7 separate regions of the Homo sapiens genome follow, and all the other regions are reported to be linked to region 2. Evidence: microRNA targets listed by miRTarBase, many of them from high-throughput screens and not tested one by one. Region 2 holds a microRNA gene; each other region holds the end of a gene's coding sequence. Distances are between the middles of the regions.
Evidence for each region. Region 2 holds the annotated microRNA hsa-miR-548as-3p (UAAAACCCACAAUUAUGUUUGU, at 1,712-1,733, opposite strand). A microRNA usually pairs through its seed, bases 2 to 8, with sites in the 3' UTR of a target mRNA and lowers its output. Matches are read on the target gene's strand: a 7mer-m8 pairs with bases 2 to 8, a 7mer-A1 pairs with bases 2 to 7 and ends in A, and an 8mer does both.

Region 1: the mRNA of USF3 is a reported target of hsa-miR-548as-3p. Seed matches in the 3' UTR shown: 7mer-m8 at 1,456-1,462.
Region 3: the mRNA of PTGR3 is a reported target of hsa-miR-548as-3p. Seed matches in the 3' UTR shown: 7mer-A1 at 2,362-2,368.
Region 4: miRTarBase lists GTF2F2 as a target of hsa-miR-548as-3p. Seed matches in the 3' UTR shown: 7mer-m8 at 3,354-3,360.
Region 5: the mRNA of ZNF101 is a reported target of hsa-miR-548as-3p. Seed matches in the 3' UTR shown: 7mer-m8 at 3,242-3,248.
Region 6: miRTarBase lists CDKN2AIP as a target of hsa-miR-548as-3p. Seed matches in the 3' UTR shown: 7mer-A1 at 1,176-1,182.
Region 7: miRTarBase lists LHX4 as a target of hsa-miR-548as-3p. The part of its 3' UTR that is shown has no 7-base or 8-base seed match.

Annotation. Positions count from the first base shown.
Region 1 is chr3:113,652,168-113,656,696 of GRCh38, forward strand. USF3 (upstream transcription factor family member 3) reads right to left here. Exons shown (of 7, transcript NM_001009899.4): 7 at 1-4,529. The coding sequence ends at 2,777. Among named protein-coding and RNA genes, the nearest start is that of USF3, 42 kb to the right of the region's middle.
Region 2 is chr13:92,487,346-92,491,931 of GRCh38, reverse strand. MIR548AS (microRNA 548as) reads right to left here and starts at 1,769; the gene lies at 1,712-1,769. All of the region lies in intron 7 of GPC5 (glypican 5), which reads right to left. All of the region lies in intron 1 of GPC5-IT1 (GPC5 intronic transcript 1), which reads right to left.
Region 3 is chr18:75,197,558-75,201,897 of GRCh38, reverse strand. It overlaps PTGR3 (prostaglandin reductase 3), which reads left to right. Exons shown (of 2, transcript NM_175907.6): 2 at 1-4,340. The coding sequence ends at 482. Among named protein-coding and RNA genes, the nearest start is that of PTGR3, 9.4 kb to the left of the region's middle.
Region 4 is chr13:45,282,596-45,287,181 of GRCh38, reverse strand. GTF2F2 (general transcription factor IIF subunit 2) reads right to left here. Exons shown (of 8, transcript NM_004128.3): 8 at 2,289-3,740. The coding sequence ends at 3,621. Among named protein-coding and RNA genes, the nearest start is that of SNORA31B, 52 kb to the left of the region's middle.
Region 5 is chr19:19,679,170-19,683,755 of GRCh38, forward strand. ZNF101 (zinc finger protein 101) reads left to right here. Exons shown (of 4, transcript NM_033204.4): 4 at 12-4,337. The coding sequence ends at 1,131. Among named protein-coding and RNA genes, the nearest start is that of ZNF101, 13 kb to the left of the region's middle.
Region 6 is chr4:183,446,681-183,451,266 of GRCh38, forward strand. It overlaps CDKN2AIP (CDKN2A interacting protein), which reads left to right. Exons shown (of 3, transcript NM_017632.4): 3 at 1-2,384. The coding sequence ends at 747. Among named protein-coding and RNA genes, the nearest start is that of CDKN2AIP, 4.3 kb to the left of the region's middle.
Region 7 is chr1:180,273,588-180,278,173 of GRCh38, forward strand. It overlaps LHX4 (LIM homeobox 4), which reads left to right. Exons shown (of 6, transcript NM_033343.4): 6 at 598-4,586. The coding sequence ends at 992. It overlaps LHX4-AS1 (LHX4 antisense RNA 1), which reads right to left and starts at 1,094. Exons shown (of 5, transcript NR_037642.1): 1 at 1,064-1,094; 2 at 350-525. It also overlaps a transcript of ACBD6 not described here.

The DNA of each region.
Region 1 (4,529 bases), not on the chromosome of region 2:
GCAGTGAGAGACAGACAGATGAGAGAGGGAGAGAGGGAAATGAATAGCCAAACACATGGAAAACTGTCCTTCTTGAAATTGGCACACTGGACCTTTCAAGTACAAAGAAAAATTTGAACGTTGCAGCTTAAAATTCAGTTAAGAGAATTAAAAAGCAAGTCATAAATGCCACATTTTTCCTCAATAAAAAGTTTTGACTACTGTGTTTATCTGTTGTCTTGAGTAACTTATTCATGAAGCTCTCCTATTCTTCCCCAAGACCATTTTGAAGAAAGAAAATACAGGTTGTTCTTGCTTTGTAAGCAAGAAAAAAAAAAATATTGTATATTTTTTTGTCCCTAGGAAGCTGCTTAGTTGGCAGCAGAAAAGAGACAGGACAGTTTGGTAAGAACAGTTAAAGAGGCACAAATGACCCTTTTGCTGAGTCTTTAGAAGAGGTATTCACTGGAGTTAACTGCTCTGACCAACCCTTAGGAAGCTTTTTAGGATTAAAAAAAAAGGGGGGGGCCTGGGAGGGGTGACTCATGCCTGTAATTCCAGTACTTTGGGAGGCCGAGGTGGGTGGATCACCTGACATCAGGAGTTCAAGACCAGCCTGGCCAAGATGGTGAAACCCCGTCTCTACTAAAAATATAAAAATTAGCCAGGTGTAGTGGCACAGACCTGTAATCTCAGCTACTCGGGAGGCTGAGGCTCAAGAATTTGCTTGAACCCAGGAGGCAGAGGCTGCAGTGAGCCAAGATCCTGCCATTGTAGACTCCAGCCTGGGTGACAAAGTGACCTTGAATATCTCCTGAGGAAGAGGAACTTGAAAAAGGAATATTCAAGGTGCTGTTCCTGGTGTTAGTTGCACCTAACGACACTCCAGCCTGGGTGACAGAGTCTCAAAAAAAAAAGAAAAGAAGAAAGAAAAGAAAAGCTGGTCCTTGAGTTCACTTTGTTAACAAGGCAGATAAAACAATTTCTATGCATCTCTCCCACCCCATCCCATTTTTGGCAGAATATAACAAGAACAAAAAGTAATGGACTTCACAGGTTTAAGAAAAGGAATATATGCCATTGTTTTCTTAGTTTTTTTTTTAAGTTTTCAAATTTTAATATGGGTTTTTAAACGTATTATAAACTTCTGTGGGGCTTTTAAAAACCTGTACCTAGGCCAAGCACGGTGGCTCATGCCTGTAATCCTGGCACTTTGGGAGGCCGAGGCAGGTGGATCACGAGGTCAGGAGATCAAGACCATCCTGGCTAACACGGTGAAACCCCGTCTCTACTAAAAGTACCAAAAATTAGCCAGGTGTGGTGGCACGTGCCTGTAGTCCCAGCTACACAGGAGGCTGAGGCAGGAGAATCACTTGAACCCGGGAGGTGGAGCTTGCAGTGAGCTGAGATCACGCCACTGCACTCCAGCCTGGGCAACAGAGCCAGACTCCATCTATTAAAAAAAAAAAAAAAAAAAAAACCCTACCTATATCAAGTTCTTCTATGCTTTAGCAGGTCTCAGGTCTCAATTTCCCATTTTCAGATGGCAGGCCTGTTTTTAAAGGACCAATTCATACTTTAAAATATGTGTACACACACACACACATACTTACACACACAGAGACATACAGAAAGACTATATATTTTTTGAAGCACCATTTCACATCTACCAACAAGAAAAATAACAAATTCATATTCTCATTATAATTCTGTTATGAAGGATAATAATGAAATATACAATGCCATATTTAAAATATAAATGCTATCAGTAAATGAAAATACTGACAGAGCTTAAATCTCTGTTCAGAAATATTTTTAAAGTAAGGCTCAAATAAACGTGTAGATTACAAACACTATTTCCTGATCAATCCTAATATTTAAATGAATGCAAAAGAATTTATTTCAAGACCAAATAAATAGAATGAAGAGAGAATACTAAATTAAACTCAGCTGATGAAACATCCATTGTTAACTGCACCCATGCAAAACTCCACAATACAACTAACTGCTTTTACCCTTATGACCCGATGCAAAATGCAAGCACAAAACGGAGAATATGTATGTACTTAACTTTTTAGCTTTCTATATTTACGGCTAAATAATTGTCTAAGGAAGACCTTTGCTTTAAATAATCTTGGCACATTAAAGGGTAACACAGCTCCCTAATTTGAAGAACAAGACATAAAATTCAGATAATTTATGCATTGTTATAATTTAGAAAGAAGCCTGTATCTAAACCAAACTTTGAGAATAAAGGCTGATTGCTTTTATTTATTTGCTAACTGCTTGACTTTAACTACGGACATTAAACTCAACATCAGTTCAACATCTGTCATAGGTAAGAAGCTGTTCTAGATGCTGACATTAGCCAGCACTTGATTATGAGCCACTGTGTTTTATCAAGCTGCCTATATTTTTCAGTAGCAACTTACCTACATATTCCATAAGTTATCAACAATCAAGTTTAAAGTCTAGGCTCCCTCCTACTACCCAGTACATGACAAGATGATCTCCCCCAATTTCCAGCTAATTAGTATTTAGGAAATATCAACTTGGAAATGTAAATCTACTTGGAAAATAAAAAAGTACACCATGCAGTTGAAAACGAAAGATAACTTGTTTTCTGACAACCCAGTATCTGCATCTGACATGGCTTCCCTACATTCAGAAGATAACTGAAAACTGATTATACAGACACACACACACAATCCTTCTCTTCATGTACATGTCTGTGCACATGCACGCACAAATACATTTGTAATCTCACTCATTACCTTTACATTTTGTTTATCAGTATTTAAACAGCTGAACTGCAATCATGACCTAGAATATGGCTTATGTTATGGGCAGGTCTGTTTGAGGACTGCTTGGAAGAGTCAGAGGCAGAGGAATTTGCTATTGTAAGCAAAGGTGACATTGCTGAGCCATCAGGAAGCGCTGTGGCTATTTCTGGAAACAAAGATGTCATATTAAAATTGGATAAGTGAGAGTTGGTCATGTGCATTGGTGGCATATCTGGGAGAAGAGGAAAACTTGGTTGAGCAAACCCAACAGGTCTGGGAGGAGATAAAATTGATCCAAATCGGTTATTTAAACTTCCACTGTTTACCTTCTCTGTGCTAGGATTTGAGAACATCTGATTAGGAAAATAGGGGATTGAAATATCATTGGACAGTGTAGGATGAGCAGGAGAGTATGGAGGATAGAAGGAGGGCAGAGTATTTTGCGGATCTACCGGGATGAGGGCTGGAGTTCGAGTGGCACTAGGCTGAGTAACCTGTGGAATGAAAGAAGCATTAGCATTTATTGGTGGATTCATGCCACCCTCAGGAATAAAAGAAAAACCAAAATTTTGTGATAGTGTATGCTGGTCAGGACCTGAATTATCATTAGGTACTTGTGGGCTATCAGGCATGAAACGAACAATACTTCCTCTCTTCTCTGTGGCAGGTTGTTGACGTCCAAGAATCATACTGCCACCAGTAGAGAGAGGAAGATGGGGAAGACTTGGATCAAAGACAGTACTTTGCCTTTGGTTTCCAGAACGATTCCTTTCAGGCTGACGAATTTTGGAACCACTGCTGTCTTGCAGGGGATGCCTTGATCTCTGGGGAACTGAAGAATTAGCTTGACGTACAGCAGGGCCTTGATCGCCATTTCCATGAGACACAGATGGATGTGGCAACGCTGGCCTTGCAACCCCATGCATGTTGGTTGTGACTGGAGGGTTCATGTGGCCCTTGGTGGCATGACTCTCAGTAATCCTCATGGGATTGGATTTCTGTACAGAAACATTGGGGCTTGTGTTTCGACCTTGAATATCTCCTGAGGAAGAGGAACTTGAAAAAGGAATATTCAAGGTGCTGTTCCTGGTGTTAATTGCACCTAACGACATGTCACAACTTTCCCTATTCTGACTCTCACTCTCTCTTCTAATATGGACATTTTCATGAGTTGGGGGACAATTATATTCAATTGCAGAGGATGGACCACACTGTGTATTCCTCTGATGTTCTGAGAGTGACCTCTGGCTCCCAATGACCTGATCACTGAGGTGAGGGGCAAGTAAGCTCTGCATGAAACTTTGGTGACAAGTATTTTCACTGTCCCTTGATGGAATACCATTTCCTGTTGGGATGCTCTGAACTGGTGGGTAAGATAATCTCTTTTGACGGTCAATTGGTGGGGGGCCAGTGTTTTGACTAATTCGAAAAGCCTGGGACTGCATACTCCGCAATGATGATACAGGGTTACCTATTTCATTGTTTCTTGAAGATTGTACTTCAAAATTACTCTGGGGCTGTTGACTAGCTCCACTTGGTTTAAACGTCTGACAATCAGAAAGGCGGATATCTGAGGCCACAGTATGGTCCACACGACCCTGCATATTATGAATAGCCAAACTCTTATTTCTGGGAACATCAAGATAGCTTCTCATTTCAAGCTGATCTGAAACTCTGGAACCCTGAATTGATATCCCCATTCTCTGCTCTGAATTAGAAGATGTCTTTCCAATGAGTGCCTCAGCAGAATAACTTGAAACTCTATTT
Region 2 (4,586 bases):
AGGATATATTTCAACTGAATTCAGTTAACAAGAATCTCCTTTGAACCAACAGAGAAGAAAACTGAGGGCAAATAAAAAGAAATATTACTTGACATAGTATAATAATTTTATGAGGTTTGGTTTTCTAGTCAGAATTGACACAGTTTGAATTTGGAGTAGTCTGAAAAAAATCAACAGTTTGGGCATGTACTGCTTAATTTTTAGAGTAATATTCAGGTAGAAGACAGTACATTCGACAATATATTTCTTGTTGCTTGTCAGAGGCAAAATGCTGAAGTGGATAATCTACACGGTTGGCCAAGTGCACTAATTCTTATATTTTATTATGAATATAAGAATAAATGTGAAATCCCATTTATTCACAAAAATCTCCTGACCAAATGAATGTGAAGAACGTGCTGCCGATGTGTGTTGAGAAAATCTTTGCTTTACCATGAGAAAATATTGATCAAATATGTTTCTATAGCATCAAAACAAAAACTACCCATCTTAATATGTGTATAAAACATGAAAATGCCTATTAATTGCACATTTCTAAAATATAATAGTTTTACAAGTGTGTCAAAAAGTTGACTGAATTATATAAAGTAATTCTGGTTCTTCCTTTTCTTTATTAGTCCCTATTTTTGTGGACTTGAAGACTAAAAAAATCAGATCTTTTTTTCTGTATAGCTTGTAATTATGGAGAATGTTTCAAAACAAATTAAAATAGCACTTCACATATCAAGGACATCTCAGAATCATTTTCAAGTTTAAATTTTTAATTAACATGGATCTGATAGTAAACCATTAGCATAGGTTTAATTCTGAAATAATCAGCAATTGAGTACACATCTCCTGACAAGAAAACATAATAAATTTCTGATTTGTCACTAAGCAGAAACTTGGTTCCATATAGTAACGAGACCATCTGAGTCCTTCTCAGTTTCCATAGGTATCTGTCTTTGTTCTACCTCATTCTGTACCCCCTGCATGTGATGGAGTTGACAGTTATTCCTGTATAAATTTTACAAGGCTTCTTTCATGATAAGTACAAAGATTTCCACTGTAGTTTTCTTGCCTCCAATAATTAGCTTGGATTTATTGAACTACTATTTATACTAGTATAGGTTCAACCCAATATATCTTTTCAGTCAATTATTTTTAAGAAAATTTTTAGTTCATTATCTGTTACACGGTTAATTCCTTCCTATGTCCCTATGCTTTTCAAATATAAGATAATATTAGAATTAGTCATAAAAATGAAGAGGTGAAAAACACTTTAAAATTTACAAAACACTTTTATATCTTTTATATACGTTAGTCACTGTGACCCTAAACAGACCACTGGGACAAACACCATTTATATGTTTATTTTAGAACTCAGGATACTGAGGCTTACCAAAGTGTTTACTATTATACAACCATTAAGTGGTAGAGCCAGTCTTCCACCTCTAAAGGCTGGGTGGATACTTAATGTCCCTTTACAATGTATAGCAAGGATACTGATTAGAGAGCCATCATTTTTGATGAGGTTTTATACATTTTTCTACCTGTAAGTTAATCTCGTGTTCATTTATTTATTTGGAAAACATTAAGATTTTAAAATATGCACAACACTAAACATTAGGGACACTAAAAATTATTTCTGTTAGTGAAAAAATAGATATAATAATACAATGAAAAGTGGCAGAATCTAGACGATAATGAGATTGCTTAGGATCAGGCTGGTACAAACATAATTGTGGGTTTTACCATTAAAAGCAACGGCAAAACCCGCAATTACTTTTGCACTGACCTAATAATTCACAAAGAACCGAGAACAATTCAGCTTGGAGTTTTCGGGAAACAATGCGCTGAAAAGTTTAACTGCACATTATAGATAAATTTTTTAAAATGCACAAGAAGAGTATGTAAACAGACATTCTAAGAGGAAGAAGCACATGTTAAAAATAAAAACTTACATATAATGTTTAGGGACAAATATGTCATAATGAAGTTCCACAGAATCATTTAAAATCCTGCCAAGAAACTTGCCCTATATTTTATCCTTTTAGAAGCTGACTTTTTTTTTTTCTGTTTGCAATATGACCATATTTTTTGTTTTTTACATTCAACCAAGAGTTCCTTCCTGGCTTATGAATAGGTGAATCAAGCCTTAGTCCCAGCTCTGTCTGTACCTCCAACTACTGTAGATATTTTGTGTGTCTAGACAAACAAAAGAACGTGGTGATATTTCTTCATCCATACTGTAGGGAATGTGGAGAAAGTAAATTAATATTCTGAGTTCTTCTGAAAGTAGTAATGGCAAGCTTAATGGCAAACTCTAGGTGAGTTTCTGAGAGCAGCCCTGCCTCAGGTATCCACGTGGGTATCTCTCACTTCCTTCAGTTATCTACTCCAATACCACCTTTCGAGTAACCCTGTCCATATCCCTCAACTAAAATAACAACATCAGCACTCCATCTCATCTCACAATTTTTATGCAAATTACCTTGCCTAATTCTTCTCCACGTGTCTCATCAATATCTGACACATGATGTATTTACTGGTTTGTTTTCTGCCAGTATTCTGTTTCCCCGTTAGAATAGAAACTCCATGAGGACAGAGAATTGGTGAGTCACAAGATGTATCTCTAGCAACGAAGACATAGCCCTGCACATACTAATACTTGATAAATATGTATAGGATCATTAGATAAGTGAATGGACATAGGTAAAATGTACATGAAAATGAAGGATTTTTCTTAGTTTGGTGGTTAAATCATTATTCTGTGTCATTTCATCAGAGTTTAGCAGTAGACTAGCCACCTTGAATTTCACATTCTTTCTCTACTCCATGATGCAATGTATTGTCAAAGAGAGATGAAGAGCTTGATTAAATTATTATGTGCTGATTTGTGCATAATTGAGTCAAATAGAAAATAACTGATATATTAATATTTATATGAACATCTGGGAACTTGTATATAATTCTGTCTAAACTTGAAACCATTCCCCTGAAATTTACTTGTTAAAAAAGCCCTTTCTAATGTTTTATTTGTTAGTAACTGCCTTTATTGTCAAGCCTTTAAATGCTATTGCTATGTTAGCACATTGATACACATAGACATGAACAGTTTTCCGGAGGGCAGTTTCACAAGTAGAATTAATTTTAGTCAATTTCACTTTCAAAGCTTCAAACATTATCATGAATCAAGAGAAATGCAATGCCTGCAAGAAACCACCACCTACGACACAGTATCGCTGTGAATTCTGAGCATATGCACTCTAAATACCAGGTTTTATGTCATTGCATTTCCTGTCTGGCTTTGAATGAATTCTGCCTTACAGGACTATTAGCAAACAACAAAAATGATAGCACTTCACAAGCCAAGGAATAACTAACCTACTTAAATATGTCTTCCTTTTGGATAGATTAAAAATGCCAGCAGTTAAGCAGCTGATGTATCAGCACGTATGGCAACGGAGGGATTTTTGCAGGCATATGCACTTAATCAAATATTACTTTTCCCATCACTGCCTAGAATCTATGTAATTTAATTAACTTATGCTTCAGTGGCATTTTGGAAATGAAGTGGATCTGAAGTAAGCATTGGATAGGATCTACTTAGCATTCCATCACGGAAAAGTGATGCATAAATTTAAATCTTTCGATAATATTATGCTTTGATTTAAATTGGTTTGAAAGATTTTGGACTGTTTAGTAAGTTTGCAATCCTTAAATAATTAGTCACAGCCACGTTAGAAAAAAATGGGTTTTCATTGAGTTTTGATACTGGATTAAATTTACAAACTTATATGCCTGTACACACACACACGCGCACACACACACTCAGGCACATACGTATCTGGGTATGTATGTTCATGCATATGTTCACATTTTTATTGAGGTAGAATATGAAGAAAAGAGCAAATATTATAAGTATACAGTTTGATGACTTCAAAAATTGCACATAAACACCCTAATCAAGAAACAGAAATTCATCCATCCTCACAATTCCCTTCATATTTCCTTCCAATCACTAATCCTTACCTCTTCTCATCAAAGGGATCTGCTCTCCTGGCCTGTAATAGCATAGGTTTTACTTTCTTTTTTTTTTTTTTTTTTTTACTATATTTATATATAGTCCATATTTATAATCATGATTTTCTTCACAGAAAAGCATCAAAGTATAGAGATGTTTGTCTCACAACTCTCAGCAAGCTACTTAGCCTGAGATGGGATCACTTAAAATTTACTTCCATTTCTCACAGAATTGTGTCTCAGTGTAGTAACTAATTTCAAGATAAACTTTGGGGTCACGTGCAGCACTTAAATAGTTTGGAAATAAACACTTCCACTGTTCAATGATAAAAATCATTGCTCTCTGGGATGCAGAAAGTTTTCTACTCTTTGAAATATATTGAGGCTTCTTTGTAGGAGAAGGAGTCAATCTGATAATCATACCATCTTATAGATAAGTATTATCCCATCTCAAAAGGCACATGGTACATCATGACATGCCTTTGGTGAATCATGACAATGCAATTTTAGACACAACTAAGAACAGCAATAGTCTCCTGGTTATAAATTCCCTTCAGGCAGTGCCAGTGACAGTTGTATAG
Region 3 (4,340 bases), not on the chromosome of region 2:
GTGATCGTCCTATCAACTATAAAACTGAACCCGTAGGTACCGTCCTTAAGCAGGAGTACCCTGAAGGTGTCGATGTGGTCTATGAATCTGTTGGGGGAGCCATGTTTGACTTGGCTGTAGACGCCCTGGCTACGAAAGGGCGCTTGATAGTAATAGGGTTTATCTCTGGCTACCAAACTCCTACTGGCCTTTCGCCTGTGAAAGCAGGAACATTGCCAGCCAAACTGCTCAAGAAATCTGCCAGCGTACAGGGCTTCTTCCTGAACCATTACCTTTCTAAGTATCAAGCAGCCATGAGCCACTTGCTCGAGATGTGTGTGAGCGGAGACCTGGTTTGTGAGGTGGACCTTGGAGATCTGTCTCCAGAGGGCAGGTTTACTGGCCTGGAGTCCATATTCCGTGCTGTCAATTATATGTACATGGGAAAAAACACTGGAAAAATTGTAGTTGAATTACCTCACTCTGTCAACAGTAAGCTGTAAAAACAGAACAATGACATAAATCAAGGGAGAAAGAAAATGGGCACTTTATGTCTCAGAATTACTCAAATCAATTTATTTTTAGTTGGTAATGGATATAATATTTCTTAAAACAAAAGTAAGGTGTTAATGAATAGGTCTCTCCTTCTCCTCCTCCTCCTCCTCTTCCCTTGGGGGAAAAAAAAAAATGTGCTAATAAAACTTCCCTCCATGGCTAAGAGGGAAAACGCTTACATTCAATTCTTTAGTCATGGATGGTCTCGTTCCAGATGTTATTGTTCCAGGGAACTAAATTCATTCCTGATGCCAGATCTGATCGAGTCAGTATGTCTTCAGCTTGATCAGATTTTAAAATCAGTTTTGAAAGTGGTTCCCGACTTCTTTGCTTTGGGAGAATTTGGTCTTATGCTCATAAGCAGTTCATGAGTGACAAGTGTAGCAAAAGCCAGCCATATATTTTCAGAATCTATATCCTCAGGAAATGGTCCTTTTTTTTTCTATAAATCACCAACCAACTATCTAAATGGACATTTGGGGGAATTCCCTCCCAAATTTGATTTTGTTATTAGAAAAATGATTCCGTGAACACAGATGTGTTTTGAAGAAGTAGCACGTAATGGCTTTTATCTACCATCAACCTGATAAGGCACATGTGAAATGGAAATGTTCTCTTTCCTCTGAAGCAGCAAATTAATGTTGAAAACTTACATAGACAGAAAGTAGGTTTTGGAAAGGGAAACCACAGAGATTAGGGGGACTTAAAATTAATATAGGCACAGGAAAGAGAAAAGTGTGCGCTCCATTCTCAGTGGGGGTTCACCACAAAACACGGGCCCCAGGAGGGAAGCGCTGTCTAGGCACACGGCAAGGCCTTAGTAACAGCATGCTACACTGCTCGAGGTACGGTATGTCCCATCGCCCTGTGCACCGTAGAGACCTCAGTCATCTCAAGGAAGAATACATTTGCTTCTCCTTAGAGGCGTTCGAACTAGAAGCTATGCGTTACCTCTGATTCTGGAAACAGAATAGCAGCCACTCATTCTGCATTCCCATTTTTCTCTCCACGTGTTCTGGTGGAATGAGATGCTCCTTGGCACTATAGCCTGATGTCCCACATTGACCCACTGACCACACAGGAAAAGCAGCGAAACCTGCACCCTCTCTTCTGAGTCACGCCTGTGGCTCATCGGCTTCCCTCTTAACCTTTAGTGCCCTGAAGACTGCTGCCGCTGTCACCGTTGCGCTGAAACCCCATGGGCCCGTTCTGATTGAAGGTGAAGCCCACCAGATTATTTTTCAAAGTCTTAGGTTTCGGTGTATCTAACCTGCTCAGTAAATATGGACGCAATTAAAGATGCTCTAGGAAATTTGGGGACTGTATTTAATTTTTCTTTCCTTCCATCTGAGGAGCAAGGAAATCCTACTGCTGAATAGCTGTTAGTATCTATTTTACAAGATTTACTCATTTTCAGGTACCTAATGTAGCTGCTAGCATGCATGCACAACAATACAATTTATATGGTAAATGGAACCAAATAATGGCTTCACTGAATGTTATGGCTGCACTGAAGGGAAATGTCACGGTAAATAGCTGCCAAATTATGGATCATGCCGAAGTGTCACAACTGCACTAAAGACAAATAGCACTAGAGGCTATTGCCACTGTGACGCTTTTGAGTTATGAAGAAGGGTAGCGGCCTGATGCGAGGCTCTTTGTGTCCTCATTATAGCAAAGGGTTACTGGTGCAGGGGACTAGGAAAAACCCGTCCAGTGTGGTGCTTAGTTATTCATCCATCCCTTTCAGACCTAACAGCCACAGCCACACGGAAAGAGACTTTGCCTCACTTTTACATTCACAAACAAACAAAGGAGGGGGGAGCAGGTTTTATGAATGTAACTGTGCACAGGAAATGACTGGTAATGGAAAAAATGTTGTAATAAAATAATCTAATCAAAGAATATTATTAAATTTAACATAGTCTATGTCCAAAAGGCTTAGTTGCTTCTTATGCAGATAGATGTGTGAAATCTAAGCAGTAATGTACTTTCTCCCTTTGTAAAGACTTGGGGAGTAAGGACATTACCAACTAAATTGCTTCTTCGAAACTGAAGTGAGTCCCGGTTTGTTTCATTTTAATGGGAGGGTAATAAAGATGAAAGACCAACATTTTAACTGATGGATCCCTTAAGCTACAGAATAGAAATTTATTGTGTTTTGAGGGAATATACTAAATGCAGCTATGTAAAAATAAAATTCAAACGCCCAGGATTAAAATAAAATATAATCTGAAAACCTCATGTTCTCTCTTTCCCCAAACTAAGAAAGTGCACTGCATGCTGTTTTCACTTATTCTTAGAAAACAAGCATGAAAGATTCCGCCCATTCAGATAATGCCAAAAATATGTTTAAACTTTTTTTTATTCTTTTGAAAAATGATTTGTAAATTGAGGGTCATAGTTCAGCATCAGTTTCATCTTCTGGGATTATTGTTCAAGACCAGCCTCTAATGGGAGGTGAAACGGTACGATGGTCTCAACACCTTTCTTCTGAACTGTAATACATATCACAAAAAGTACATCCATAATTCAGGGCAATTGTCAGTCTTTTTAGAGAAGGGGCCAGGGTGGAACAATCCCAGTGAGTAAATTATTTCTCAGCGTGGACTTCTCTGCATGTCGGGCTTAAGGTCACCAGCCGGGCAGGGTGGAAGGAGCTTGCCTCTTTGAGAAACCAAGGAGTCCCAGTGATCTGTTACCATTTGGTTATGACTTCTAAAGAGCCAAATGCTATTCCTTCAAGCCTGTTTTGCAGGCAGAAAATACCAGCAGTGTCATTTAGGGGTTCCTTTGATGATGACTACTGCTGTTAACTGACCTCAGCATTAAAAAAAAAAAAATTCAGGGAATAGTTTGCAAAGAAATGAAGGAAGTTTTGCATGATATATTCTATAACTTGTCATTATATGATTTCATCTGGATGAAGTTCCTCAGGAGTAGGATAGAGCCTCTGTAAATGGTCATTAGTATTACATTCTGTGTTTATCTAATGAAAGTGCAGTGACAAGTAGCTGCTTCTTATTAAAATGAAAATCCTGCATTATGTACTTGAGGAACATTCCAGCTAATGAGGATGTAATGTCCTCAGTACAACGCAGACCTTCTTTTTGTGTTCACCACCACAAGATGCTGGAAGCTTGACAAATGATATCATTTAAGACACATGCCTGCCTTAGGGACCTGGTTTTTGGCTTCCTGTTTCTGGCTTTTATTTGGGTAACGTTTATAATGGCCACCCGACTTGTACCTGGGTAATGTTTTAACCCCTTCCCCAGAGTTCTCAATTAGCATGAATTTACTACAGTCAGAGTTTCCTTTAAATTGGGGTGGGGGTGCTAAGCACTGAAAATATCTTTCTTGATTACTTTACCATGTGGACATATGGGATAAATACTGTATTTCAGATTTACATAAAAGTAGATTAGTAATGCACAGCTTTCAGAATAAAAACTGATAAAAAAGACCAAGCACTATCAACTTTGGACAGTAATTTCCTAGGTGTTAAACAAGTTTTCTGAATACAATCTGGATGCAAAACGGCCTGATTTGATGAATTCATAATTTTCTTCTGTATACTTTCATTTTATTAAATATTTTATTACTTGGTTAAACACAAGAATTATCTATGTAAACTTCATGGGCTTTTTTGTTGAAAGTTAGATGTTCAGTAACTAATTTCCCAGTTATGGCCCAGAATTAAACATTTATGATCATATTTCAGAAGTCAAAATACAAAACTGGATTATCAAAACGGTTGGTGTGGTCACTTTAAACTGGACTATCAGTATGGTTGCCGTGGTCAC
Region 4 (4,586 bases), 47 Mb from region 2:
TAGCTGGGATTACAGGCTTGCACCACCATGCCCAGCTGATTTCTGTATTTTTAGTAGAGACAGGGTTTTACCATGTTGGCCAGGCTGGTCTTGAACTCCTGACCTCAGGTGATCTGCCCGCCTTGGCCTCCCAAAGTGTTGGGATTACAGGCGTGAGCCACTGCACCCAGCAGATCTATCACTTTAGAAGTTACTGTGGTAGCTGGGTGCAGTGGCTCACGCCTGTAATCCCAGCACTTTGGGAGGCTGAGGTGGGCAGATCACCTGAGGTCCGGAGTTCGAGACCAGCCTGACCAACATGGAGAAAACCTGTCTCTACTAAAAAATACAAAAAATTAGCTGGGCGTGGTGGCGCATGTTTGTAATCCCAGCTACTCGGGAGGCTGAGGTAGGAGGATCGCTTGAACCTGGGAGGTGGAGGTTATGGTGAGCCGAGACTGCGCCATTGCACTCCATCCTGGGCAACAAGAGCGAAACTCCGTTTCAAAAAAAAAAGAAGTTATTGTGGTAACATGTAATTTCAAATCTTTCCAATGCCCAGCAACTATATCTCCCCTCTCGCCCATCCAAGACGGAGTCTTGCTCTGTTACCCAGGCTGGAGTGTAGTGGCGAGATCTCGGCTCACTGCAACCTCTGCCTCCTGGGTTCAAGCAATTCTCCTGCCTCAGCCTCCCAAGTAGCTGGGTTACAGGTGCCTGCCACTGCACCTGGCTTATTTTTGTATTTTTAGTAGAGTTGGGGTTTCATCATGTTGGCCAGGCTTTTCTCAAACTCCTGACCTCATGATCTGCCTGCCTTAGCCTCCCAAAATGCTGGGATTACAGGCATGAGCCACCATGGCCAGCCACAACTATAATTTTATTATATTTTGTCACTTAAAGCATCCCCTCAGTGTATCAGTTGAGTTTAACAATATCATTTATTAAATATGGCCTTCCTGGCCGGAAGCAGTGGCTTGCCTGTAATCCCAGCACTTTGGGAGGCTGAGGCAGGTGGATCATGAGGACAGGAGATTGAGACCATCCTGGCTAACATGGTGAAACCCCATCTCTACTAAAAATACAAAAAAATTAGCTGGGTATGGTGGCGGGCGCATGTAGTCCCAGTTACAACGGAGGCTGAGGCAGGAGAATGGCGTGAACCCAGGAGGCGGAGCTTGCAGTGAGCCCAGATCACACCACTGCACTCCAGCCTGGGCGACAGAGCGAGAATCTGTCTCAAAAAAGAAAAAAATATGGCCTTCCTGTCTTATGATGTGACATCTTACCAGAAGTGTGCATCTTCTTTATCTGTCTTCCTTTCACTCTCACAGTTTATAAGGGTTTAGGATTCCTACTTATTGATCTTTGTCAAAAGTCTGTTTGTCAGAGTAAGAGAGTCCTGAAATAAAAGAATAAGGGAACCTGGGTGGAAGGGAAAACCTCCTCCATGGCCAGCACCCACATTTTAACATTAAATAAGAAAGCAATTTAAGCCAGGTGCGGTGGCTCACACCTGTAATCCCAGCACTTTAGGAGGCTGAGGTGGGCAGATCACTTGAGGTCAGGAGTTCAAGACCAGCCTGGCCAACAAGGTGAAACCCCGTCTCTACTAAAAATGCGAACATTAGCCGGGTGTGGTGGCATGCGCCTGTAATCCCAGCTGCTTGGGAGGCTGAGGCAGAAGAATCGCTTGAACCTGGGAGACAGAGGTGGCAGTGAGCCAAGATCACACCACCACCGCACTCCAGCCTGGGCAACAGAGAGCAAGACTCTGTCTCAAAAACAAACAAACAAACAAACAAAAACGTAATCAGAAACAGCATCAGTCTAGCACCTAAATTATGTATCCTACTGAAGAGATAAGTGTTTAAGAGACTCAAGCTCATGCAATCAGGTGTGCTGAGGTAACAGGCAACTAAAAGAAGCAGAAAAAACCAGTTTACAAAAAAACCAAAGCACAGCTTCAAATAAGACACAGCTCTGCCCTGGGAACTCTTGTGGCACAGCCACCTCGTTCAATATGGCAGGCACTGTCCCCAAAACAAAAGACATCAGCAGAGGAGACACAGTCTGTTTCAGGGCAGTACCAAATATATAAAAAAACAAGGTTTTGGGGAAGATACATGCTATGAACCAAGCACATGGCAGGTATCCAGAATCCTCAGTTCTATATAGATTTATCAGACCATTATCCACGGGCTTCCTGACACAGAGCTTCCAGTCATCAGGAACTAGAAGGTGATGGGCATACCACATTTGGTGCCTGTACATAAGAAAATCTGAGGTGGAGTGGGGAATGGGAACACTTTCTTTACTCAGAATTTTATTTTTCAGTGTGTACACAGAATAAAAATCTTCTTAGTGCTATAACAATCTCAGAATTCTAATGCTTTGCTGCTAAAAGCAAATAATATAAAAATTGTTTTTCTCAATGGATAGATATCTTCTTGCTTTAATTATATAATATTTTCTTCAATTTTTGGCATTGCTCCTTCCTTATTTTTATTATTTTTTCTCTTTTTTTCCTGCAAACACTATGGCAACTTGGGCATTTGCTACTTCTTGATTGCAGCATCTAGAAGCAGATGACAAAATGAACGAGTGAAAAAACAACTTTTCCCTGTGCTTAGTTCACTTAAGCTTCTTTGTTTTGTTTGATGGTCTTGACAGTATGATTTTGGATCGCTTAATATATAATATTGTGTTGTGCTAGAAAAAACTAACATATACATGTATTGTTTTCATTTAAAAATTAATTAAAGAGAAAGAGAAAAGCAACATTTTAATGCCCCAGGAATTGAAACTAACGTTTTCTGTCTCGGCTGGACCCCTACGCCCATCTTTTGATTTGCTGATATCATTTGCCATGTGATGGTCAATACATGTCTGCTGGGTAAGCAGTAAAATTCTGGGGGCAAGCCAGTTTTGAGAAGCTTATAATCTGACTGGGGGAGACATATCTTCAAATTTTGGAAAGATATTTAATTTCTAATTATCTTAAAAGCAAATAAAAGAAACATCAACTGACCATGATCCTGCACATTTCTCATCTCAGCATCACTACGGTAAAATAAGCCAATGATGAACACTGCCATTTCACTACAAACTCTCTCCTTTTATTAACGTTGAGTATGAACACGAAACGTGATCACCTGTTTAAAAGAAAAACACCGCTTTGTTCTTTGACAATTTCAAAATAAGGAACTTTGGGTTTTTATTCCTTTTAAGAGTTTCTGTAGTTGACTGTTTTTTTCTTGCTATACAATTCTCCTTGGATCTGTATTACCTCAGCTCCTTAGATACGGCAAGGGTAGAGAGTCCTCACTTAAAAAAATTTCCTAATTGTACACATTAAAAGCTAATATTTAAGAAAAACCCTCTTAATCCTCCAACCCCTATTCCTACTGTGAATAATCTGGTTTAATACAAGTTAAGTCTATAAATAAATCTGTTCTTTCTCCTCAAAAAAACAGTTAAGAAACTTTACAAGAATTACAGGTTTAAAAAATTTACCGAGAGAAATCAAAGTACTGTCACTTAACCCCTATTAACATACGGTGTTCAAGCCTTCCAGTATCAGCGCCTTTTGCATAGCATCGCTGCTAGTCGTTTCACTAGCATGCTGGCTAGGAGTCTTCTTAGTCACTCTTTTCTTCTCCTTGATAGTGTCTGTACTCTGGCTTCAGCTCCCATGTGTTTTTGTGGATCCCTTTTACATTCTGAACACCAATTTCTTTTAAGATTTCCTTCAGGTACACCTAAAACAAAAACAAAACCCCTAACAAATGAGATTATAAATGCAGGGGACAAAACTTAAAATAAGATGATATGCCAAAGCACATATGCAAGCCATAAAAATTATGATCCTAAAAGCTCAGCAAGATTTCTCTATAAGGAGGTTCAATAAACTGCCTTTTGATTCTACATGTGCGACATGGTAACTGCACTAAATATATGATCATGTGCATTAAAGGAGTTGAAAGTCCTGAATGCCAACAACTTAAAAGCTAAAACAAACAAACAAAAAAAACACAAAAAACACTACATGAAATACACGAAAAAATTACTGGTCCTCACTCAGTGTGACACGGTACACCAAGGGTAATCTGCCCTTGAGTTCAGTGGCCTCATGGGACTCAGTTCACAGATTGAAACCAGTAGTTTCAGGAGCAGTAGCATATAAAAAAAATGAGCAACATTTTTGAGAATATTCTATCAAGCAGGCATATGACAGGTATTCAGAATTCTCAGTTCTAAGGTGAGTTCTCAAATTTGTTTTTAGGCCACCCACTTATTTTTTCCTATGTGAGAAGGAGAGTTGTTATTTGTATTTACTACTATTTGTACTTTAGCCAAGCTTGCCAACACAGATAAGGGAGTAAGAAGTGATAATAAGGCCGGGCTTGGTGGCTCACGCCTGTAATCCCAACACTTTGGGAGGCTGAAGTGGGCAGATCACCTAAGGTCAGGAGTTCGAGACCAGCCTGGCCAACATGGTGAAACCCCGTCTCTACTAAAAATACAAAAATTAGCCAGGCATGGTGGTGGGAACCTGTAATCCCAGCTACTAGAGAGACTGAGGCAGGAGAATCACTTGAACCCAG
Region 5 (4,586 bases), not on the chromosome of region 2:
ATTTTTCATAGAAGTCTGGTGGAGAGACTCTGTGGACGTAAAGAAGGGAATGAACACAGAGAAACTTTCAGCCAGATTCCTGATTGTCACCTGAACAAGAAAAGTCAAACTGGAGTGAAACCATGCAAATGCAGCGTGTGTGGGAAAGTCTTCCTCCGTCATTCATTCCTGGACAGGCACATGAGAGCTCATGCTGGACACAAACGATCTGAGTGTGGTGGGGAATGGAGAGAGACGCCCCGTAAACAGAAACAACATGGGAAAGCCTCCATTTCCCCCAGTAGTGGTGCACGGCGCACAGTAACACCAACTCGAAAGAGACCTTATGAATGCAAGGTGTGCGGGAAAGCCTTTAATTCTCCCAATTTATTTCAAATCCATCAAAGAACTCACACTGGAAAGAGGTCCTATAAATGTAGGGAAATAGTGAGAGCCTTCACAGTTTCCAGTTTCTTTCGAAAACATGGAAAAATGCATACTGGAGAAAAACGCTATGAATGTAAATACTGTGGAAAACCTATCGATTATCCCAGTTTATTTCAAATTCATGTTAGAACTCACACTGGAGAAAAACCTTACAAATGTAAACAATGTGGTAAAGCCTTCATTTCCGCAGGTTACCTTCGGACACATGAAATCAGATCTCACGCGCTGGAGAAATCCCACCAATGTCAGGAATGTGGGAAAAAACTCAGTTGTTCCAGTTCCCTTCACAGACATGAAAGAACTCATAGTGGAGGAAAACTCTACGAATGTCAAAAATGTGCCAAAGTCTTTAGATGTCCCACGTCCCTTCAAGCACATGAAAGAGCTCACACTGGAGAAAGACCTTATGAATGTAATAAATGTGGTAAAACCTTCAATTATCCCAGTTGTTTTCGAAGACATAAAAAAACTCATAGTGGAGAAAAGCCATATGAATGTACAAGGTGTGGTAAAGCCTTTGGGTGGTGCAGTTCCCTCCGAAGACATGAAATGACTCACACTGGAGAAAAACCCTTTGATTGTAAACAGTGTGGTAAAGTCTTTACTTTTTCAAATTACCTTAGACTTCATGAAAGAACTCATTTGGCCGGGCGTAGCCAGTGCTTTGGCAGGAGGCAGGGGGATCACCTGAGCCCAGGAGTTTGAGACCAGCCTGGGCAACATAAGAAGGCCCCATATCGGCTGGGTACGGTGGCTCACGCTTGTAATCCCAGCACTTTGGGAGGCTGAGGCGGGTGGATCACCTGAGGTCAGGAGTTCAAGACTAGCCTGGCCAACATGGTGAAACCCCGTCTCTACTAAAAATACAAAAAAATTAACTGGGCATGGTGGTGGGCACCTGTAATCTCAGCTACTCGGGAGGCCGAGGCAGGAGAATCGCTTGAACCTGGGAGGTGGAGGTTGCAGTGAGCCGAGATCACGCCATTGCACTCCAGCCTGGGCGACAAAAGTGAGACTCCATCACACACACACACAAAAAAGCCCCATATCACGTGGTGGCTCATGCCTGTAAAACCAGCACTTTGGGAAGCCGAGGTGGGTGGATCACGAGGTCCAGAGATGGAGACTATCTTGGCCAACATGGTGAAACCCCGTCTCTACTAAAAATACAAAAATTAGCCAGGCGTGGTGGTGTGTGCCTGTAGTCCCAGCTACTCGGGAGGCTGAGGCAGGAGAATTGCTTGAACCAGGGACTTGGAGGTTGCAGTGAGCCGAGATCGCGCCGCTGCACTCCAGCCTGGTGACAGAGCGAGACTTCGTCTCAAAACAAACAAAAAAAAGAAGGCCCCATATCTCCAAAGAAAAAAAAAATTAACTGGGTGAGGTGGTGCATCCCTGTAGTTCTAGCTGCTCAGAAAGCTGAGGTGGGAGGAACCCTTGAGCCTGGGAGGTTGAGGCTGCAGTGAGCTGAGATCGTGCCACTACACTCCAGCCTGGATGACGGTGACACTCTGTCTCAGAAAAAAAGGGAAAGAAATAATTCTCATTTATACAGGAGAGAAATCCTATGAATGTAAGGAATATGGGAATACATTCAGTTTCCAAAGATATGAAAAGACTAACTGGAAAAAAATCCAAAGACCTCAGATATTCCAGTTCTATTCAGAGCCATAAAAGGACTCATACTGGAGAAAAATTGTAGAAATGTACAGAATATGGGGAAACTCTCATTGCTCTCATCTCCATTCAAAGACACGTGTCAGTGCACACTGGAGATGGATGGTATGAATCGAAGAATACACACTGGATGGAAACGTTAGTAGTTTGGAAAATACAGGAAACTTCCATTTTAACAATAATTAAAATTCACATGGGCTGTGCACAGTGGCTCTCCCCTGTAATCCCAGCATTTTGGGAGGCTGGGGTGGGTAGATTGCTTGAGGCCAGGTATTCAAGACCAGCCTGGCAACCTGGAGAAATCCCATGTATACAAAAAATAGAAAAGTTAGCCAGGGATGATGGTGTTCGCCTGTAGTCCCAGCTACTCAGGAAGCTGAGGTGGGAGGATTGCTTGAGTTTGGGAGGTCGAGGTTGCAGTGAGTGGAGATTGCGCCACTGGACTCCAGCCTGGGCAACAGTGAGACCCTGTCTAAAAAAATTAATCATGTGAGAACATCCACTCGAAAGAAATCCTATAAACGTAAGTAATTTTGAAAGCCTGATGCAAATTAATTATTATATAATGCTCAAAAACTTAATCATGAATGAGTTATTACACAAAGTTATAAATATATAGCATTTATCAGTGGCTCATTCTTTTTTCTTTCTTTTTTTTTTTTTTTTTTGAGATGGAGTTTTGCCCTGTCGCCCAGGCTGGAGTGCAGTGGCACAATCTCGGCTCACTGCAACCTCCGCCTCCTGGGTGTGAGCAATTTTCCTGCCTCAGCCTCCTGAGTAACTGGGATTATAAGCACATGCCACCACGCCTGGCTAATTTTTTTGTATTTTTAGTAGAGACGGGGCTTCACCATGTGGTTCAGGCTGGTCTCAGACTCCTGACCTTGTGATCCGCCCTCCTTGGCCTCCCAAAGTGCTGAGATTACAGGTGTGAGCCACCGCGCCTGGCCTTTTTTTTTTTTCCCGAGACACAGTCTCACTCTGTTGCCCAGGCTAGAGTGCAGTGGCGCGATCTTGACTCACTGTAACCTCTGACTTCTGGGTTCAAGCAATTCTCCTGCTTCAGTCTCCGAAGCATCTGGGATTACAGGCGCACGCCACCATGCCCAGCTAAATTTTTGGTATTTTTGTAGAAACAGGGTTTTTCCACATTGGCCAGGCTGGTCTTGAACTCCTGACCTCAAGGAATCCATCCTCTTCAGCCTCGCAAAGTGCTGAGATTATAGGCATGAGACACCTTGCCCGGCCCCTGTGACTCATTCTTAAAAAGGATCTTTGGATTATGGGTTTCCACTTTTGCAAGGAAATGTGAGAATGATACTCTTTAAGCAGTGGTACCTGAGGTTTAATAGGAAGTGTTTTTATCCTAAGTTAGTTAATAAAATTTTTTTCTATCCATTTTGGTTTTCATTTTTTTCTATCCATTTTAAAGTGTTGGATCTGTGGGTGAAGTGAAATTTATTTCTAATATGTAAGCAGGTTTAATTTTTATGTAGTGTTTAATTGTTCTGTGATGAATGGGCCATTACAAAATGAGTCTATTTTTGTTTGTTTTCTTTTGTTTTTGAGACTGAGTCTTGCTCTGTCGCCAGGCTGAAGTGTAGTGGCGCGATCTTGGCTCACTGCAACCTCCACCTCCCGGGTTCAAGTAATCCCCCTGCCTTAGCCTCCTACAGGCGCGTGCCGACATGCCTGGCTAATTTTTTGTATTTTAGTAGAGACGGGGTTTCATTGTACTGGCCAGGATGGTCTTGATTTCCTGACCTTGTGATCCACCCCACCTTGGCCTCCCAAAGTGCTGAGATTACAGGAGTGAGCCACTGCGACCGGCCCATGAGTCTTTATTAATAGAGATTTCTTACTGGTGTTATGTGGCAGATTCTGCATATTCCTCACCCATCATATGTATTCCACTTTCCTTTATTATGGGGAAAACTACTCTTTTTGGCATGATACAATGTTGACTCCATTTTCTTTGCTAATAAGGACTTGGTATCAATTTATCAGTATGTAAAGTTTACCATAGAGTATTGTCTCATGTGAATCATTCCCATTTTTTGCTCTTTACTCTTTGTCGTTATTTCTGAGTATTATTTGGATGGTTCATTTTGACTTAAGGATAGCCCTGTGATATGACAATATTTTTATCTAATCTGATGGAGAAAGCATTTAGTCTCCTGATCAAGTATGATGTTAGCTGCAGGTTTTTAATAAATGCCTTAATTCAGTTTGAAGAAGTTCCCTTCTGTTCATTATTTATTGAGTGTTTCATCAAGTTGTATTGAACTTTTTTGCATCTATTGGGATGATCCCCTTTTTTTTTTTTTGGAAACAAAGTTTCACACTTCTTGCCCAGGCTGGAGTGCAGTGGCACAATCTTGGCTCACTGCAACCTCCGCCTCCCAGGTTCAAGTGATTCTCCTGCCTCAGCCTCCCAAGTAGCTGGGATTACAGGTGCCCTCCACCACGACTGGCTAATTTTT
Region 6 (4,586 bases), not on the chromosome of region 2:
GTTGCTAAAAACAGTTCCTCATCAGGCACATCCTTACTGACTCCCAAGAGCAGCTCTTCAACAAATACATCGCTGCTAACTTCCAAGAGCACTTCCCAGGTAGCTGCATCACTACTAGCTTCCAAGAGCAGCTCCCAGACCAGTGGATCTCTGGTTTCCAAAAGCACTTCCTTAGCAAGTGTGTCCCAGTTGGCTTCTAAGAGTAGTTCTCAGACTAGCACCTCACAGTTGCCTTCTAAAAGTACTTCACAGTCAAGTGAGAGTTCTGTCAAATTCTCTTGCAAGTTAACCAATGAAGATGTGAAACAGAAGCAACCTTTTTTCAATAGACTATATAAAACGGTGGCATGGAAGTTGGTAGCTGTTGGTGGCTTTAGTCCCAATGTGAATCATGGAGAGCTCCTAAATGCAGCTATTGAGGCTCTGAAAGCAACACTGGATGTATTTTTTGTCCCACTAAAAGAATTGGCAGATCTGCCTCAAAATAAGAGCTCTCAAGAAAGTATTGTTTGTGAATTGAGGTGCAAGTCTGTGTATTTGGGCACTGGCTGTGGAAAAAGCAAAGAAAATGCAAAAGCAGTTGCATCAAGAGAAGCATTGAAGTTATTTCTCAAGAAAAAGGTGGTGGTAAAAATATGTAAAAGGAAATACAGAGGCAGTGAAATAGAAGATCTAGTACTCCTTGATGAAGAATCGAGGCCTGTAAACTTACCTCCAGCACTAAAACATCCTCAAGAATTACTATAATGTGTCCAAAATATCACTGCATACAATATCTGGTATTTGAAGAGAAAAACTGACTTTTGTATAGTATAAAACACAGGCTTTCACAAATTTTGTATTGCTTTTTTTCCAGTTTTGCAGAAAATTTACATTCTAGTTCTCTTCACACAGTAGCAGTTGTAAATAATTTATGAATGACAGTACACATTAAAAGGTATGCATTAGCAGCATATTAGTATGCTGTTTTATTTGCTGAAGAAAATACTGTCTTCTATTTTTAATGATACATTAGGTACGATGTGTAGTTCGGTAGAGTCCTAAAATTTTTGTACTACTTTCAATTTGGTGAAAATGTATTAAGTTGTCTACCATGTTTTCTTTTCTAGCTGAATAAACCACATCAAAGGAAAGGGACCACAGTATTTGAATGTTTGAAAGTCTGTAAAGCTTAAGGTTTTAAAAATGTTGCCCGTAATGTTGAACGTGTCTGTTAAAAAATAAAAGAAAAAATAGTTGCTTCAAACTATTTTTATGAGAAGTTGTAAGCATTTTTTAGATATAAAGCAGTATAAAGTACTTGTTATTTTACTCTGAAGTTGTTTAAAATTCACCATGACTTTGACCGCTGAAGATTCTTTAAGCGGGTTAATTTATGTTTTGAGGTGGAATACAATTTACACTTTTTTCTTAAAAACATGAATGTGGGTTTCTATATTAAGCATATTTTGTGACTACTATTAACAGATTGATTTGTTTAGATATTAAATGCTTTAAGCTATTTTACCTTTTCAAGAAGTTGTGTTTTTTTTCTCCAAGTCAGAACCAATTCCTGCAAATAGGCTTCCCATGACTTGTCATTATAAATTAGACAACCAGGTAATTGTGTGATATACATCTTTATTTAATTTTTTTTTTTACAGCAATCCCCTGAGCCAGAATAGATTAAAAGCGATTCCCTTCAATTTTCAAATCTAGAACTGGATGGTTTTTGTGTTTATGCATCTTTTAGAATACCGGAAAGAACAGAGAGCCGTGTTCAGCTCTTGATAATGAGCCTATTCAATTTAACTACATTCGTTAAAATGAAGTGGAATTTTGTTTTCGTCTTAGGTGATTCTGCCTGTTTGTCTGTCATTGTATATTCTGTTTACTTTGCTTCAAACTGGCCCCAAGATGTTATTTTTGTGGTTTCTGGCTTTCTAGATTCTATTTTTAGATACTGCCCATTGAGCAATAATGGTGATAATATAGAGAGAAAAGAAAGACCTTTCATGGGCCAGTTGTGTTGGAATAGGAAAATCAAACGTAAGCACAATTTAAGTATGTAGCAGTTATTCCTATTTTGTATTCTAGGAATAAAAAGATACTTTAATTTTTTATGCTAGAATTACATAATTACATAATCAGATGTTTTAATTTTACCATATAACCTTTAAAAATGATTCATTTTTGAGGATATTTAATTGGATACCAAAGCTAAAATCCATATACTGTAAGTGGGTTGCCTTTATAGATTGCGGGACACAATAACATGAATGTATTGTGAAAGCACTTTTAGTTACCTCACTTTCCTCAGTCTTGGAATGTGTATTTTGTGGGATAATGATTATCAGAAAAGCAAAAAATTACAACGAACAAATAAATTTATATAATATATCCAATTAGGTGGTTTGGTAATTTCCTAAATTGGCTTGTTTCAAGTTACTATGAAGGTTATTGAGAATGTTTTATAGTGACTTTTGATGTGGAGGAAGTTGTTTAGTGTACATTTATGATAATCCTATTTAAAAACCTAGAAAAATGCTCTTGGTTAATAACATTTAAAGAATCCTGGTTTAAGAGAAATGCATATTTTAGAATTCTATTATTGAGAGTGAATCTTGGCTGTCTCTTACTAGACATGTAACCTCTGGGAATTTAACCTTTTAACCTTACTTCGTCTGTGAAATAGGACTAATAGCTGTCTCATAGAGCATGGCAGTTAGATGAGATGATACATTCAAAGTGCCCGGCATGGTGCAGATATCCCATGGTTCACTTATATATTCTTATTCCTCTTACAAGGAGCTCTTCTCATTTGGCCTACTTTTCAGATGGAGAAACTTACACAGAGTAATTCGGTCAGATAATTCAAGCCCATATCTGATTTCAAAACCCAAGCTCAAGTATGTTGTACTGCTTATTATCCTTGTCACTTCTCTATATGCTGAAATTTCTGAAAATCCCTCCCAGAACGTGATTTTTTACCAGATTAAGTGACCGCATCTTTCTAAAGCCTCCTTGAAATGAGTCACTTCAGAGGCTCTTCTATTATTAATGCTTCTAATACTTGCATATCTTGAATATCCTCAACTAGTGAATCATCCCATATGGATGCAGTTGAACTTTGTAAAAAGACCATACACACACAAAAGAAATCTGCACAAAAAACCCCCCAAAACCAAAAAACCAAACACACCTGCCTAAAATAGTGTATAATCAAGTTGAGTGAATAAAGTCGGCTACCAAGATGGGATATACTGCTTTTTTCAGATGAGTGAGGGGAGACGATTTCCTGAGACATCAAGATTTTTCTTGATGTTAGAATGAGATTTTTTTTTTAATGGTAAAATTAGTTGACTTGTAAGAATGATACTGTCATGAGTTTTTGACCTAAATTCTTGGAGCCTGTCACTGCTGTCATTGGCTAGGATAATTGTCATAGGGATATGTGTAACTTTAAGGCCTTTGATATGTATTATCAGGAGCCTGCTCCAATTTGAATTATGTTTTCCCTGCCAAGTGCAGCTTTTCTTGGTACAAATTTCTACTTGCTGTTTAGATTTTTGAGTAACAGCAGTGAGAAAGTAACAAAAACAAGCCGCAATTGGGAATCAGGTCAGTCCTACAGGTATTGTGTTACTACTTTGTGGACTTTGTCCTCAAAAATTGTGCTGAAGTCCTATATTGACCTACTTTCTAGACATTGGTTATCCATTCCTGCATGATTTTTAAATAATATTTTCTGTGATTGATGAATAAACTATTTCACTTTCTACTAGAACAAAATGTTCAAGTTGAATGAAGGGTTAAGCCATTTATTGCCCAACTATTCCTCCCCAAGAAAAATATCAATCATATTTCTTTGGCATCCCTGCACACAGCTTAGTTGCCATCCAGTTAGAACCATTTCTTACTACCAACTTTAATTTTAATATCTCTCGATTTTCCTCCTTTTGTTTTTGTTTTGTTTTTTTGTTTGTTTTTTTTTTGAGACAGAGGGAGTCTTGCTCTGTCACCCAGGCTGGAGTGCAGTGGCGTGATCTCGGCTCACTGCAACCTCGGCCTCTTGGGGTCAAGCAATTCTCCTGCCTCAGCCTCCTGAGTAGCTGGGATTACAGGCGTGCATCACTACACCCAGCTAATTTTTTTGTATTTTTAGTAGAGACGGGGTTTCACCATGTTGGTCAGGTTGGTCTCGAACTCCTGATCTTGTGATCCACCTGCCTCAGCCTCCCAAATTGCTGGGATTACAGGCGTGAGCCACTGTGCCCAGCCGATTTTTCTCCTTTAAAAGTCATTATCTGAAAATTATTAGTTTTTAAAGTTCTTTTTCTGTTCCTTTGCTATTCATCTAGCAAGAAAAAGAGTAGACAAGGCCCCAAACTAAATGGACTTTTAACTTTGAAGGGAAAAAAGAAAAGTAATGCTAGGTTGGGCATGGTGGCCCACAACTGTAATGCCAGCACTTTGGGAGGCCAAGGCAGGCGGATCACCTGAAGTCAGGAGTTTGAGACCAGCCTGGCCAAAATGGTGAAACTTTATCTTATAAAACTACAACATTAGCTGGGCGTGGTGGTGCGTGCCTGTCACCCCAGCTACTT
Region 7 (4,586 bases), not on the chromosome of region 2:
AGGTTCATTTGCCTTAATCAAGTCAATTCTTTGTCCCCAGTGAAGAGCTTATTGAATACAGACAGAAACCAAGTCCTTTGATATTGAACCTCTCTTCCAGATAGACCAGAAGGATTTTGTACAGATGTCTAAGAGTGGTCCTCAGCTTCCCTGACCATATGGGCCTGCTTGCTTCCCAATCAACTAAACCAAGCCCTTTCTCAGCTTGAAAGCTTTCAGGGTAAATGTTGTCAGCATGTAGTTTCCATTTGTGATGTGGAGACATCTGACCCACCCAGCCTTAGGCATTCATCCTCCTCAGTGTAGCCAGAGTATTAGTACACGAGCCACAAGGGACCAACGAGCTCACCAAACATTTGTCCATCCTTCTGGGACCTGGGAATTTAGTCTTTGCAGGTGTTTCTTGTTTTTCTCCTTGGCCTGGGTTGGCCTCTGGATATCAGGCTGCCATATTGGTGTGTCTGACCCATGCTTGGCTGCAAGGCAGCTGCCATCCTTGGGCATCTTTCCTGGTCATGTGTGTTCCTAGGTTGTGAAGAGCAGGGGACCATCAGAGTCCTGGCAGCTGACAATAAATCTCCGTTCTTTTGTCCACAGAGGATCAAATTCTCTCAGAACTTGGCCACACCAATAGGATTTATGGCAACGTGGGGGACGTTACAGGCGGACAGTTAATGAATGGGAGCTTCTCCATGGACGGGACAGGACAATCCTATCAGGACTTGAGGGATGGGAGCCCCTATGGAATCCCCCAGTCTCCATCCTCCATATCGTCCCTGCCATCCCACGCTCCTTTGCTCAATGGGCTGGATTACACGGTGGACAGTAATTTGGGCATCATTGCGCATGCAGGGCAGGGAGTAAGCCAGACGCTGAGAGCCATGGCTGGGGGACCCACCTCTGACATCTCCACAGGAAGCAGTGTAGGCTATCCCGACTTTCCAACTAGCCCAGGCTCTTGGCTCGATGAAATGGATCATCCTCCTTTTTAAACTTCTCTCCTCCCCACCCTACCTGCCCCCCTGGCTTGAGAGAATATCTTCAAGGATCAAAAGAGACTTGCCTTTTAAGGATCGAAAGTACGCCAATGTGAATTTCCATTATTTTCAATGGAAGTCCTCCGCTGATTCCTAGAAGGCTGTGAGACCACACTAGGGCATTGTTTCCCTGGGGAAGCAGTGGGAGAGCAGACTCATCTCAGAACACAGCACAGGGGGTAATGGCCTAGAGCTCTAGGGACACTGGCTTGTTGGGTCTCTCCCCTGCTGTTCTGCTTAGGGGCTTGGCTGCTCAGTGCTTTGGTAGCACAAGGTGACTGTGATAGGCCCCCTTGGCCTTTGGGAACTTTGCTCCAACTGGTGTGTCTCACACAATGCCTCCCAAAACACTGCTCTCACCAGAACTGAGACTCCTAAGGTAGAGGCCTCACAGCCCTTGAGTAAAATAAAAGTGATTTCTGGACCATCCTTATTGAACCCTATATTTCAAAATGAAAAGATCAGTTATTAAAGGTCAGTGAACACTTTGATGGCCAGTTTGATATTAAAAACATGCCCCCTCCTTTTTTATTTTTGCTGTGAAGATATGAATTCTTTCCTACAAACCAGAGAATATGAACCTGTTTTGGTTTTTAAGTGTCCCATCTATATCATTGACTCTGATGGCAAGAGGTGGTTTTCATTGCAGGTGACTGAGGCTGAGCTGAGTAGCCCTGGACCACCGCTGCAGATTGCCTGAGTCGTCCCCTTGGTGCACAGTGTGCCTTCTTCAATTGCTTGTATCATTTATTCCACAAGACAGGCTGTGGGCTGTAAAATGAGCAAAACTAAAATGTGGGGAGAACAAAATGACAATCAATCAGTGAACATTTGTAGACACATTTGGATTCCAAACCTGCAGTCTGTTCAGCCATATCGGCTGATGCCAGTCTTCCAGAGTTCCCCATCCCTTGTAGGGTGAAATATTTGGAGTCTGTTTTGAAGGAGTTGGTTTAGATGAGCTTGCAAGTCTACCCCTCTGAAAGCTTTCTCTGCTGTCCTAGCTGACTCAATTGGAGGACAGTTTTGGTCATTTCCAGGAACCAGCAATTTTTTTTTGGCCTACCTTGGTTGGGAAGAGTAATTTAGGGAGCAGCCCTAAAATTGTCCAAAGGGTTCTAAGTGGTTCTTGGGCTGCATCTCTCTGGATTGCTGGCTGGACACCTGCCATGCCTTGGGCTGCAGTCCCATGGTCAGAAAGCCAGAACTCTCTGGCCAGTGGTGGTGCAGGGACTCCCCGTTGTGCAGGTTTGCAGTAGCAAATCACTAAGCCTGAGGCCAGAGCAAGGCCAACCCCCGCTTTACGAGTTGCCACTCCTGCGACAGACTGCACTGCTGTGGGAAACGCTGTCCTGAATGGTGCTGCAGCTCCCACCCACCTTGTGCACCCATCTACCATCAGGAAGCTCTCCATGTGCAAACTGGAATTTAGCCAGCTGGAATTTATTCCTGTCCCTCTGGGAAGCTGTGTTTGCTTCTTCTGGCCTCCCATTCTCTTAAATGAGATCAGCAGAGTAGGAAAGGGTGAGAAGGCATTGCCTATCACATGAAGTGATGGGGCCAGAGACCCTAAGGACCCTTCCTTCTACGAATGGTTGGTCACCTTTTGAGGACTGCAAAGACTTAGGCATGTCATAGGCAGACTAAAGGAAGAATACACAGTTCCTCTTGGACTGCTACATCTTTTGTAAGCCCTTTTCCAGGACTAAACTAAGTTCAATTAAGTAAGTTCTTTAAAACAGTAAATTCCGGGATCAGCCTTCGGGCCCTCTTCTCTGACCAATTTTATAGCGTACCCTCGTTTTTTGGTGTGCTGCAGTGGTCATGATTTTTGCTTGAGAAGTCTGCAAACATAGACACTTCTCTTGAGGTTCCATGTTTATGGATGATGTTGTGTTAATCCTAGCCAATTCTGTGCTATTGGGAATTCTCCAATCATGAACACTGGGGTGGGGAGGAAGACACAAATGCCATGTGAGGAAAGGAAAATGCAGTCGTCTTTTTGGAGGATGGCTTTTTAAATACACCCTTCTTAGCAGGCTGCTTAAAATACACAGGAGAAAAGGCTCTGCTGGGCAATGAACCAGATGAAAAGCTGCCCACCCAGATCACTGTTGCAGGTTGACTATTTGGCTTAGCAACTCATGGGATTTCAGAGGCCCTTGAAGTTTTTGGTGAGTATAGTGTGGGGGAGAGCAGGCTTTTTAAAAGGGGGGGGGGCATCCTCCTCTGTGTAGCACTGTTTAAGATCACTGTAAGTAAGTTGACCAGTTTTTGTAAGTTAATCATACTAATTCCCAGTTCAATAGTGGAAGGAGAGGCCTTCCTCATTTATACTAATAATATAATAAATCTCTTGAGGAACTCAGTGAGCAGTTGACGAGGTCAATAGTTCTTTGGCATCAGTAGGGCTGGTTAGCTGGAAAAACCCTTGAGAGCACTGGCCTGAAAACCAGGAGAGCTTTGTTTTCCAGAGCCACCTCCCCAGAAAGCAGCAAACACTGCTGCCTGTTTAGAAGCACAGCCACAGTAGGTCTAAGATTTTAAATGGATCTCCCTACAGGTTGGGTTAGCATTATGGGTGGGCTGGTGCCACTAATGAGCCATTGCATGACAGGACTCTTCTGGGGTTTGGAAATGGAGAAAAGCCGGGCATTCATTACTTTTAGCTTCTCTTAGAGGCACTCCTCTGTTGCTTGGAAGTCTATTATGGGGTATAAGGTGCTACATGGTAGCTGTTTCCCCCCTTGCTAAAATGACATGGATGAATTTTAAAAATGAAATGAGACCTTCTAGAGGCAACCATTATCTGCAGTGCCTGGCTGGTCGACTTTAGAGTAGGAAGCTCTTGAATCCAGGAGCAAATTAGTTAAAACCCCAAGTTCCAGTGGTAACTGGTATAAGCAAAATGGAAACTGAGGGGCTATGGAGGAATCTCTGTTTGTTGGAACGTAATGAAACCATGGAGGAAATACCAGATTTAAGGGCTAAGAAGCTGGCCCGATGGGTAAATCAGTGTTGGGAGTCAGGTTCTTGGCCCTTCAAGGACTTGCTATGCAACCTCAGGCAAATTCCTCTCAGTCTTTGTGCTTTCTCTTTCTTGTCTCATCTGACAGTTATGAATATAACGTAAAATAAAGATCAACTATCATTGATAACACTGTTCCTGCAAATGAATACTGTGAAACATCAGGGAAAGAGGAAAAAATTAAGCCACAAGAAAACCATTTGGCAGTGTCCTTAAACTTTTTTTGGGGGGGGGCAGTGTAAAACATGAAACCTAGTAAGATAATTGGGCCATTAGATCTTCATCATTAAACTCACTTTGCAAGGAAGTGTAAGAAATCTGTAAAACAAAAGACATTCCTATCTCAGAAGCTCAAACTGGTGATTTCCAACTGCCTCTTTACAGGAGGGGGCTCAAGGCTTCTGATGAGCAAAGGCTGTGTGTTGTATGACAGTCCACTCTCTGCACCTACACTTCCACGTGCCACGACTGACAACTTGGTTATAACCATGAAAATAATGACCATACCTCCCCAGCCAGCA